Linked DNA regions of Homo sapiens. The protein of the gene in region 3 purifies or fractionates together with the protein of the main gene of each other region. This does not show direct contact. Each region holds a gene or a part of one and is shown on either strand. Other genes may lie near its edges. The genes, in order: COCH, CD109 and MMP19.

Region 1 (3,725 bases), on a different chromosome or scaffold from region 3:
AGTCTCCCCACCACTATGCCCCAAGAAGTCCTAAGAATGCTTACAATATTATCTCCTTTTTCTTCAGCTCCCATTGCTATCACATGTTTTACCAGAGGCTTGGACATCAGGAAAGAGAAAGCAGATGTCCTCTGCCCAGGGGGCTGCCCTCTTGAGGAATTCTCTGTGTATGGGAACATAGTATATGCTTCTGTATCGAGCATATGTGGGGCTGCTGTCCACAGGTAAGCCCAAACACACCAGGGTGGGAGAGAAATGCAGACGTGATTATTTCCTTTCCTGCTTTACCCATCTGGATCCCTTTCCTCCCTGCATTCTTTCTTTTGTTGCCATTGTGGCCACAGAAAATGGATATATTTTCACGGTTCTCCTGGATATACTTGAAACACCAAATACACATGGAAAGCTTTCTGACAAAAGGCAAATAGCATTACCTCTTGATGGCTAGATTGCTATGATTCCAAAACATTCCTAATCATGTGATATATTACTGAGTTATTACTATGTGCCACCTATTGTTTTAACTTCCACCACAACTCTACAAGGTAGGTAGAATTTTACTCCAGTTACAGATGAAGAAACTGAACTCAGAGAGTTGTCAAGTATCTTGCCCAAGGTGACTATTGTTAGCAAGTGCCATGCTATCCTGTAGTAGAATAGCCAGTATAATACTTCTAAAAAAATTCAGTCCAAAGGCATGTAGCTAAAGTGAGTATCTTAGGAAAATTGTTTGGTGCTCTGAATTTCTAAGTTGTGGGTAATGGGATATTACAAATGTGTTCTTATCAACACTTAAGAAGTTCAACAGCACAAAACCATTTTTTTCCAGGCAAATTTTGTTCTTGTGTAAGCAAGTTTTTAAAAGGCTAGCAGCAGCTGGGAGTGGTGGCTCACACCTGTAATCCCACCACTTTGGGAGGCTGAGGCGGATGGACCACTTGAGGTCAGGAGTTCGAGACCTAGCCAACATGGTGAAACCCTGTCTCTACTAAAAATACAAAAATTAGCCAGGTATGGTGGTGCATGCCTGTAATCCCAGCTACTTGGGAGGCTGAGGCAGGAGAATCACTTGAATCCTGGAGGTGGAGGTTGCAGTGAGCCGAGATCGCGCCACTGCACTCCATCCTGGGCTACAGAGCGAGACGCCATCAAATAAATAAATAAATAAAGCAGAATCTTTAGATGACTTCCCTGATGAGCTATTTTCTTGATTAATCAAAGCAATAGATACAACATGGCACTATAAGTCAGTGGGATGCCCTGAAAAAGTGTGGATAGCATCTCAGCTGCTATTCTTGTGTTACAGGGGAGTAATCAGCAACTCAGGGGGACCTGTACGAGTCTATAGCCTACCTGGTCGAGAAAACTATTCCTCAGTAGATGCCAATGGCATCCAGTCTCAAATGCTTTCTAGATGGTCTGCTTCTTTCACAGTAACTAGTAGGTATAATTATTGTTCTCATTCTGTAATATTCTCCCACCCCCCAAACGTTTTCTGCTTTTTTTAGCTCAGCCTCTTTAACCTTGATGGAAAAACCTGTGATCAAGACTAAAGCTGACCTATAGAGGTAAACTGTAGGTTAGACTGAGGGGTCAAGTACCCACTGAAGCCAAATTTGGGTGAATAGAAGACAATCTTACTGACAGATGATGGCAATAGAAACTTGAATTATTTGCAGTCAGAATGCCCGGACACTTACCAAGGAACTGAAAAACTACTAAATACATTTTTGATGATCCTTTGAAGATATAATGGATAAGCATTTTGGTTCTCTGAAACTAGCATGCAGCAGGATGTTTGTAACTACAATCACCATTACCCTATTACATTTGTCATTGTAGAGAGCTCTAAATTAGATTCATAATACTTTGGTAAAGAAGGAAAAGGAAAAAAATAAGCTTATTTTTATTTTAACAGAAGGCAAAAGTAGTACACAGGAGGCCACAGGACAAGCAGTGTCCACAGCACATCCACCAACAGGTATGAACTATGAAACCTATCTCCTAGTTGCCCGGCACAGCATTTGGAAGTTATGAATAAACGTGTTGTTGGTAGAAGCTTTTCTTAAAGAAATTTGATATTAAAGAGAAACAAAGCAAATACCTTAAGTTTACTGGTATATTACATATGGAAACATTCATTATGTGTATATTTTAAAGACAGGGTCTCACTCTGTTGCTCAGGCTGGAGTACAGTGGTGCAATCATAGCTCACTGCAGCCTTAACCTCCTAGGCTCAAGCAATCTTCTCACCTTGGCCTCCTGAGTAGGTGGTACTACAGGCACATGCCACCACACCCAGCCAATTTTTTTGATTTTTAATTTTTTTTATTTTTATTTTTTTAGACAGGTCTAGCTATGATGCCCAGGCTGGTTTTGAACTCCTGACCTCAGGCAGTCCTCCCACTTCAGCCTCCCAAAGTTCAGGGATTACAGGCATGAGCCACTGCACCCAGCCTAATAATTCTCTAAAAGTCCTATTTTCTCCCAGATTTGATAAACCACGCCTAAGAACTGGTCAAAGTACCATGAACTTCTAGTTCCATTTGCTTCATTAAATTCCTTTAATTACTGCACTGTCATGTGACTAAAAGGAATGTGTGTCTATTGTAAGAAATAGCCAGGGATCCCCTTTTGTATGACGATGGCAGTTTTAAAGTCAAAGATATTAAGAACATTAGGATTTAATGTTGAGTTCCTGCCTCACCTGTGGGTTTGGGGTATTAAAGTCCTGGATTAGGGCATATCAAATATGTAGGCCTACATACTGATTTGTTTATTTGTTGGGTCATTGCTTTCCCTAGTCCAGAAAATCCTGAGGAAATTAATTTTTTTAAAAAAGTCCTTTCAAGAATGGCACTCTGTTGTTATGAGCTTCTCCCCATGTGGGTTTCTTGCTATGTAACTGTCTTCCTTTTGTTAATGCCAAGTGCATCTTTTATTTCAGGTAAACGACTAAAGAAAACACCCGAGAAGAAAACTGGCAATAAAGGTAAGAATCAAGATCTCCATTTGGGAAGGTAGCATTTTCCCTCCCTCCTCTTGAGACTGCTAATGAGGGGACTGGTTTGGTTGTTCGCAGATTGTAAAGCAGACATTGCATTTCTGATTGATGGAAGCTTTAATATTGGGCAGCGCCGATTTAATTTACAGAAGAATTTTGTTGGAAAAGTGGCTCTAATGTTGGGAATTGGAACAGAAGGACCACATGTGGGCCTTGTTCAAGCCAGGTACCAACCTTGTTAAAATGGGAGATTTAAAAAAAAAATTATTTTGTAATTGACACATAATAATTATATATACTTATGGGGTACATAGTGATGTTTTCATACATACAATGTATAGTGGTCAAATCAGAGTAATTAGCATATCCATCACCTCAAACATTGATCATTTCTTTGTGTTGGATACATTCAAAATCAAATGAGGCCGGGTGCAGTGGCTCACGCCTGTAATTCCAGCACTTTGGAGGCCAAGTGGGTGTGTGGATCACCTGAGGTCAGGAGTTCAAAACCAGTCTGGCCAACATGTGAAACACCGTCTCTACTAAAAATACAAAAATTAGCCAGATGTGGTGGCATGCACCTGTAATCCTAGCTACTTGGGAGGCTGAGGCAGGAGAATCACTTGGACTCGGGAGGCAGAGGTTACAATGAGCCGAGATTGCACCACTGCACTCCAGCCTGGGCAACAGTGAGACTATGTCTCAAAAAAAAAAAAAAAAA
Region 2 (3,500 bases), on a different chromosome or scaffold from region 3:
GCCTACTAGTAGAATAGGAAAATAGTGGGGGTCCTAATAAAGAGAATGACTTTGGTGATCTCATAAAATGCAGCAGGCAGTAAGCAGTAAAGGCATCAATCACCAGGACAGCTCTGGAGCAAACTTAAGCTCGTCAGCATACCTTTCCACGCATACTCATTCTCATCCAGGCATCCATGCCCATTCAACACACTTTTCAGGGTATGGGTGTTCTCAGCACTAAATTAACAGATATTGTAACTGTTCCATGATGTTTTATAAGTAAAAAATCCTTTGCAATCTAAACTTGCTAGAACACATTGTCAAATTTTAAATAATTTTCTTTCCCCTCAGAAATTAACTTTTTCAATGATAAAACATGTATTGACTTATCTTACCAATAGCAAGTACAATACATACATTAAAAAGCATTTTTAGAATTCTCTTAGTTATTCTGAAAGAGTGGGTTAATGTTTTATTCTCAGATTTTGGAACATGGCCACAAATGCAAAGCAAAAGAGTACTCAAATTCAGATTTCACATGTGTTGTAAAGCTGCAACTTGTTAAGTTTCCACACACATATTTGACCCATTAAGACCTACCTTCCTTGAATTTCCCATCTATCATTTATTAAATTAAATACGAAATACCTGATACTTTCTATATCCCAGGAGAGAAGTTACAATATAGGCTGTAAGTGTTACTGGACTTTTATTGCCACCTTGAAGCTCACTATGAATCACTCTTCCTGGATCCCAAAATTCACCGTTGGATTTCTGATGTCCTTTAAGCCAAGTGTATGTTCTGTGTAACACATTCTGATCAATATCTATGTAAGGATCGGCTTCAAGGAAACATCTTAAAACAAAAGCTGACAACCTTTATGAAAAGAGAAAAAAATTACATAAAATACACTTTATAAGGTCCACCAAATAACACCGAGCAAGCAAAACAACAACACTTTTTCCCCCATCAGAAGATTCATCAAAGGGGGAATCACTGAAGATGGAACAAGGAAAGAAAAAAATCAAAAAAGAAAGAGCAAAGGGACAAGGTAAGCAACTCTCTCTAGCAGGCAGAACTGGTTTCCACTTGGGCTTGGCCAAGAAATTCCATGTTGACTCAAAAATCTCAGATTTGAAAAGGAATTTAGAAATGATCTAATCCAGCTCCATTTTTTAATTTAATTTTATTTTATTTTATTTTTATTTATTATACTTTAAGTTCTAGGGTACATGTGCACAACGTGCAGGTTTGTTACATATGTGTACATGTGCCATGTTGGTGTGCTGCACCCATTAACGCGTCATTTACATTAGGTATGTCTCCTAATGCTATCCCTCCCCCATCCCCCCACCCCACAACAGGTCCCGGTGTGTAATGTTCCCCTTCCTGTGTCCAAGTGTTCTCATTGTTCAATTTCCACCTATGAGTGAGAACATGTGGTGTTTGGTTTTTTGTCCTTGCGATAGTTTGCTGAGAATGATGGTTTCCAGCTTCATCCATGTCCCTACAAAGGACATGAACTCATCCTTTTTTATGGCTGCATAGTATTCCATGGTGTATATGTGCCACATTTTCTTAATCCAGTCTATCATTGATGGACATTTGGGCTGGTTCCAAGTCTTTGCTATTGTGAATAGTGCCGCAATAAACATACGTGTGCATGTGTCTTTATAGCAGCATGATTTATAATCCTTTGGGTATATACCCAGTAATGGGATGGCTGGGTGTGGGGAAAAGAAAGAGAGATCAGATTGTTGCTGTGTCTGTGTAGAAAGAAGTAGACATAGGAGACTCCATTTTGTTCTGTACTAAGAAAAATTCTTCTGCCTTGAGATGCTGTTAATCTGTAACCTTACCCCCAACCCCGTGCCCTCTGAAACATGTGCTGTGTCAACTCAGGGTTAAATGGATTAAGGGCTGTGTAAGATGTGCCTTGTTAAACAGATGCTTGAAGGCAGCATGCTCGTTAAGAGTCATCACCACTCCCTAATCTCAAGTACCCAGGGACACAAACACTGCGGAAGGCTGCAGGGACCTCTGCCTAGGAAAGCCAGGTATTGTCCAAGGTTTCTCCCCATGTGATAGTCTGAAATGTGGCCTCGTGGGAAGGGAAAGACCTGACCGTCCCCCAGCCCAACACCCGTAAAGGGTCTGTGCTGAGGAGGATTAGTATAAGCAGAAGGAACACCTCTTTGCAGTTGAGATAAGAGGAAGGCATCTGTCTCCTGCCCGTCCCTGGGCAATGGAATGTCTCGGTATAAAATCCGATTGTATGTTCCATCTACTGAGATAGGGGAAACCTGCCTTAGGGCTGGAGGTGGGACATGCGGGCAGCAATACTGCTCTTTAAGGCATTGAGATGTTTATGTGTATGCATATCTAAAGCACAGCACTTAATTCTTTAACCCTGAGTTGACACAGCACATGTTTCAGAGAGCTCAGGGTTGGGGGTAAGGTTACAGATTAACAGCATCTCAAGGCAGAAGAATTTTTCTTAGTACAGAACAAAATGGAGTCTCCTATGTCTACTTCTTTCTACACAGACACGGTAACAATCTGATCTCTCTTTCTTTTCCCCACAGCTGGGTCAAATGGTATTTCTAGTTCTAGATCCTTGAGGAATCACCACACTGTCTTCCACAATGGTTGAACTAGTTTATGGTCCCACCAACAGTGTAAAAGTATTCCTATCTCTCCACAACTTCTCCAGCACCTGTTGTTTCCTGCCTTTATAATGATCGCCATTCTAACTGGTGTGAGATGGTATCTCATTGTGGTTTTGATTTACATTTCTCTGATGGCCAGTGATGATGAGCATTTTTTAATGTGTCTGTTGAATCCAGCTCCATTATTTTGTAGACTGAGAATCTGACAGTCCAAGAGAGTTAAATAAATTGTCCAAGGTTATTCATCTTTGGACTGTTCTAGATATTTACCAAAGAAGAGCTCCAACACGCTTCAGTCAGCCCCAAAGCTGTGGGTGAAGAATGCATACATAGTTCACAAGCAAACTGTAGTACTTCAGGTGGGGAAAATGATATTTTTCTCTCCTATAGAATGGGAGTTAGCCAACTGCAGCCTGTGGGCCAAATCTGCCTGGCCCAAATCTGGCCCTCAAGCCAAATACAGCCCAGGGCCTGTTTATGTGTGCACCAACCCAGCCCCCACCTGCCAACACCACCACCTAAGAGCGGGTTTTAAAAGAAGGAAAAGAAAAAGACAAAGACAGGAAAGAAAGAGGGAGGAGAGGGAGGAAGAGGGAAGAGCATGCAACGGAGACTCTACGTGGCCCAAAATGCCTGAAATACTTACAATCTGACCCTTTACAGAAAAGTTTGCCAGTCCCTGCTACAAAACACTATACTGAGGTAAAAAGAACATCAAGCAATACAACACTGAAAGCTTTCTATTTATGGTTCTATATCCTGAGTCAGGCCAAGGCCAAGAGAAAATTTGAAGCAGATCTGTTTCATGTTATATAAAGTTTCATGTGGTAAACATTACTGATATTCAA
Region 3 (4,444 bases):
CTGTAATCCCAACACTTTCAGAGGCCAAGGCAGGAGGATTGCTTGAGTACAGGAGTTTAAGACCAGCCTGGGCAACATAGCAAAACTTCATCTCTACAAAAATTAGCCAGGTGTGGTAGTGTTTGCCTGTAGTCTCTACCTGGGAGGCTGAGGCGGGAGGATCACTTGAGCCTGGGAGGTTGAGGCTGCAGTGAGCCATGATTGTGTCACTGTACTCCAGTCTGGGCAACAGAGTGAGACTGTCAAGCAAGCAAGAGAGAGGAAGGAAAGAAGGGAGGGAGGGAGGGAGGGAGAGAAGGAAGGAAGGGAGGGAGGGAGGGAGAGAGAGAAGGAGAGAAGGAAGGGAGGGAGGGAGAGAAGGAAGGGAGGGAGGGAAGGAGAGAGAAGGAGAGAAGGAAGGGAGGGAGGGAGGAAGTTTCAAACAGGAGGCTCCATGTAGATGACCAACTGCGCCCGTGCTCCCGTTAGGAGGTAATTAGAGAGCGTATGGTGCAGGTGGGATAAAGAGCAGCCCAAACATCAAGGTTCTAGAGTCACTGGTTCAAGGAGACAGAGGTAATCTCAGAGGTCTATGAGGTGGGAACTGAGAACTGTTGCCTACCAGGCCCATCAAAAGTATTGGAACAGTACGAGCTTTGGCGGCCATGGAAGGAGAGGCGGATGTCAGCCGCACCAGCCTGCACCTCTTGGAAGGTCAAGGGAGCCACATTGCTCCAGTCCTGGAAGGCTTGACGCAGGGCTGCCCGGGCTGTGTGGGGTGGAAGGGTGGAGGGCAGGTTCAAGATGCGGAAAGTCAGGTGCTTCTTTCTCCAGCGGCCTAGTTAATGACCAGAAAACAGATTAGAAATACAGATCCTTCTGCCAACCCCAGAGAGCTCCTCTGGGTTTAGGCACTCAACCCCCAAGACAGGTGACAACCAGGTAATCACCAGGTGATTATCTATTCAACACTGAGCTGGTCCAGACTGTCCTAATGCCACCCACACGCCAGAACCACATCACCCCCTCCTCTCCCTCTCTTTTCCAGGCTCTGTTCTCACCCAGCAACAGGTATTTAAGGGTCTTCTGGTTGAAGGGATCCTCTAGGCCACAACGAGGCTGCCTCATGCGGGCCCTTGTGGCATCATCCAGCTGACCTGAGACTGGAAGTTCAGATGCTTCCTGAAAAGCTCTGAAGGAGGGAGAGGGATGGGTCTACCAGGACAGGAAAATCTGAAATGACTGGGAGATGATTGCTCTTTGACTTCCTGCTGCCCAAGTTCATGGCCAAGAATAGCACAGAATCCCTGAAGCTGACAGGGTTACTCCAGCCTCCAGTCCTCATAACTGGGACTTTCTCTTCTGTTCTGCAGAAATGGAGATACTCCAGCTTCATCTCCCCATTTTCAGTGTCTTTTATTTGAGTAAGTTTGCCCTCAGGTGTAGCCTTCCTCCTCTACTGCAATCTTCCTTCCTTCCTTCCTTCCTTCCTTCCTTCCTTCCTTCCTTCCTTTCTTTTTCTTCTCTCTTTCTTTCTTCCTTTCTTTCTTTTTTGGTAGAGATGGGGTCTCATTATGTTGCCCAGGTTGCTGTCAAACTTCTGGGCTCAAGCAATCCCCCTGCCTGGATCTCCCAAAGTGCTGGGATTACAGGCGTGAGCCACCATGCCCAGCCCCTCTACTGCAATTTCTAACCTTCTCCTACTCTGTGGAGGTGTCTGGCTCCCCTGCTCTGGAGAGCTTTCCACTAGTGCTCCCACCTGACAGCCTGTCCTCCTTCAGCCTTCTCCCTTCCTGAATGGATACCCGTCCCAGCCCAGCTTGCCCTGGAGCAATTTCATCCATCTATGGACTGTCATAGGGCCTAGGGGCTTTTCAAGGGACCTGAACATATCTGAGAGCAGAAAGAAAAATAATCCATTACATCAACATATAAAACTATAAAATAGAAATAAATAAGTACCAAATTGAAGGCCCACAAAAGGTAATAGCATGTCAACAACTCAACTCAGTTTTACATATCATTACACTTTATGTGGACTATAACTAAATATTAGTATTTGAGATATGATGTGGGTAGAGACTCCAAAGGAATGCTTATGGCCTAGGAAGATCCAATGCCTGTATTCCTCATCTGTGAATCCCCATCTCACCCCATGCCCCACCACCATAATAATGATCGCCACCCATCTCTAAATCCCTGGCATGGTTTAGGGTCAGGAGGAGGTGGGCCTGGGGAGAGGAAGGGATGAGAAGGAAGAAGACCTTGAGACCTTAGCCCTAAAGGCATACACCTCATAGCTTCTCACCTCAGAGCCTCGGTGATATCTTCTGGCTTGAAGTTATTAGATCCTTCTAGAGGCTTCTGTAGGTACCCATATTGTGACAGGTAGTCCTATGATGGGAGTGGAGGTAAGCAGGTTAAAAGGGGGTTAGTCTCAGAGTAAAGCTTCTAAGTGACCTAACAGATCCATCAGGAGAGGAGGGACCTGATATGGAAGCACTAATGGAGAAGCACCTTAGAGAAGGGGCTCAGGTGGAACAAGGGGAAGCAGCGGGAGATGGGCAGGGTAGACCATGGGGCAGAGAGAGCAAGGGAAAGGCAGGCAGGCTGAAGGTCAGGAGGGAGGCTTCGATGGGGCTGTGGAGCAGTAACCCCTGTCCCTCCGCTGGCCCAGGTCTCTTTCTTGGGGGACTTACCACAGGCGCCACCTCTGCAAGCCCCAGGACCCGGCCTGAGACTGTCATGGGGAGTAGGAAGCCCAGCCACAGCTGCTGGCAGTTCATGGTCCCACCAGACGAGAGCTCCAGAGGCTGTCCGTGCCTCTGACCTGAGATTTCTGGGAGCCTTGGGGGAGCAGTGCTAGGCAGAGGGGCTCTTACCCCCAGTTCTTTTTACTCTCCAGCCTCTAGTCCTCTTTATAACAGCTGAGGGGAATTTGGGGGAGAGGCAGAGGGAGGTGACTCAGCCAAGAGATATGTTGCAATTCACCATTAACCCTTGCCCTACCAGAGAGCGGAAGCCAAAGAGAGTTCCCAATCGCTTCCCTCAGAGTCCTCTGCTGGAGATGGAAAAACTTCATACTGCCCTAGGGTGAGCATCCAGGCAGGACGAGAACCAGAATCTCTGGAGAGACTAGAGATAGGGATCATGGACATCCCCTGGAATTAGACATCAATGTGCCTCAGGGACCCTGGGCCAGCAAATCACTCCGCCCCTACCTTTGAGTCTCCCTAGAATAAGCTGAGAGGTAGGAAACAGCTGAGGTAGCTTGGGTTTCAGGTGAAGGAGTCAAGCGTGAAGTCTCAGTTTCTTTGTACCCAAGACCAAGTTGGGAATATAGATGCTCCTGCAACCTACTTATGTCTGCTTTAATAAAAAGTCATTATTTCAAGAATCTAATGAGCCTGGAATATGTGGGTGTAGGTGGGACTTAACAAGGGCACAAATAAGTAAAGGGCCCAGAGCCTACCCTCAGGGAGCTTACGGATCCAGTGAGGCAGATCCAGACACCTGGGAAGAGGGGAGCCAGCGTGCCAGGCCAGAGGTGATTCACCCTAAGGGGCTTGGGGCTGGGGGGAGGTTTGCTGAGAAGTCAGGCTTTGAGATGGGCTTTGAAGGCCAGCTAAGAATTGATGGGGTAAGGCCAGGCATGGTGGCTCGCTCCTGTAATCCTAGCACTTTGAAAGGCTGAGGTGGGTGAATCACTTGAGATCAAGAGTTCGAAACCAGCCTGACCAACATGGTGAAACCTTGTTTCTACTAAAAATACAAAAATTAGCCAGGTATGGTGGCGGGCGCCTGTAATCCCAGCTACTCGGCAGGCTGAGGCAGGAGAATCACGTGAACCCAGGAGGCAGAGGTTGCAGTGAGCTGAGATCACACCATTGCACTCCAGCCTGGGCAACAGAGCAAAAACTCCATCTCAAAAAAAAAAAGAATTGATAGGGTAAAAGGATACTGAGAGACAGACAGTGCAGGTCTTGAGTAAAAGTGCAGAGCTGAGAGACTGCTGTACTCAGTAAGTCAGAAGGGTCACGACTGCTTCATTCACCACTGAAGCCCGAGTGCCTACCCCAGGCCACCTCCATGCTTTCGAGGCTGTGCTTAATAAATCACTGTCAAAGAATGACCAGGGTGGGAAAGTGGTTGGGAGACAGAATTTGGAGAGGGCCTTAAATGCTATGCAAGGAAAAGAAGAAAAACTTACATTTAAAAATACCGGACGGGAGCAGTGGCTCACGTCTGTAATCCCAGCACTTTCGGAGGCTGAGGTGGGCGGACCATGAGGTCAGGAGTTTGAGACTAGCCTGGCCAACATAGCAAAATCTTGTCTCTACTAAAAATACAAAAATTAGCCAGGCGTGATGGCATGCGCCTGTAATCCCAGCTACTCGGGAGACTGAGGCAGGAGAATTGCTTGAACTGGGGAGGCGGAGATTGCAGTGAGCTGAGATCGCGCCAC

The links.
Region 1: the proteins of MMP19 (region 3) and COCH purify together in Homo sapiens (affinity purification with mass spectrometry; one large-scale study listed by BioGRID and IntAct). This does not show direct contact.
Region 2: the proteins of MMP19 (region 3) and CD109 purify together in Homo sapiens (affinity purification with mass spectrometry; one large-scale study listed by BioGRID and IntAct). This does not show direct contact.

Annotation. Positions count from the first base shown.
Region 1 is NC_000014.9:30,877,505-30,881,229, forward strand, and holds part of COCH (cochlin isoform b precursor), read left to right. Parts: intron 1-67; coding exon 68-224; intron 225-1,306; coding exon 1,307-1,440; intron 1,441-1,918; coding exon 1,919-1,981; intron 1,982-2,947; coding exon 2,948-2,992; intron 2,993-3,082; coding exon 3,083-3,230; intron 3,231-3,725. UniProt on the Homo sapiens protein: Plays a role in the control of cell shape and motility in the trabecular meshwork.
Region 2 is NC_000006.12:73,804,203-73,807,702, reverse strand, and holds part of CD109 (CD109 antigen isoform 1 preproprotein), read right to left. Parts: intron 860-3,500; coding exon 631-859; intron 1-630. UniProt on the Homo sapiens protein: Modulates negatively TGFB1 signaling in keratinocytes.
Region 3 is NC_000012.12:55,840,066-55,844,509, forward strand, and holds the start of MMP19 (matrix metalloproteinase-19 isoform 1 preproprotein), read right to left. Parts: upstream 2,872-4,444; 5' UTR 2,766-2,871; coding exon 2,679-2,765; intron 2,374-2,678; coding exon 2,288-2,373; intron 1,172-2,287; coding exon 1,041-1,171; intron 818-1,040; coding exon 602-817; intron 1-601. UniProt on the Homo sapiens protein: Endopeptidase that degrades various components of the extracellular matrix, such as aggrecan and cartilage oligomeric matrix protein (comp), during development, haemostasis and pathological conditions (arthritic disease).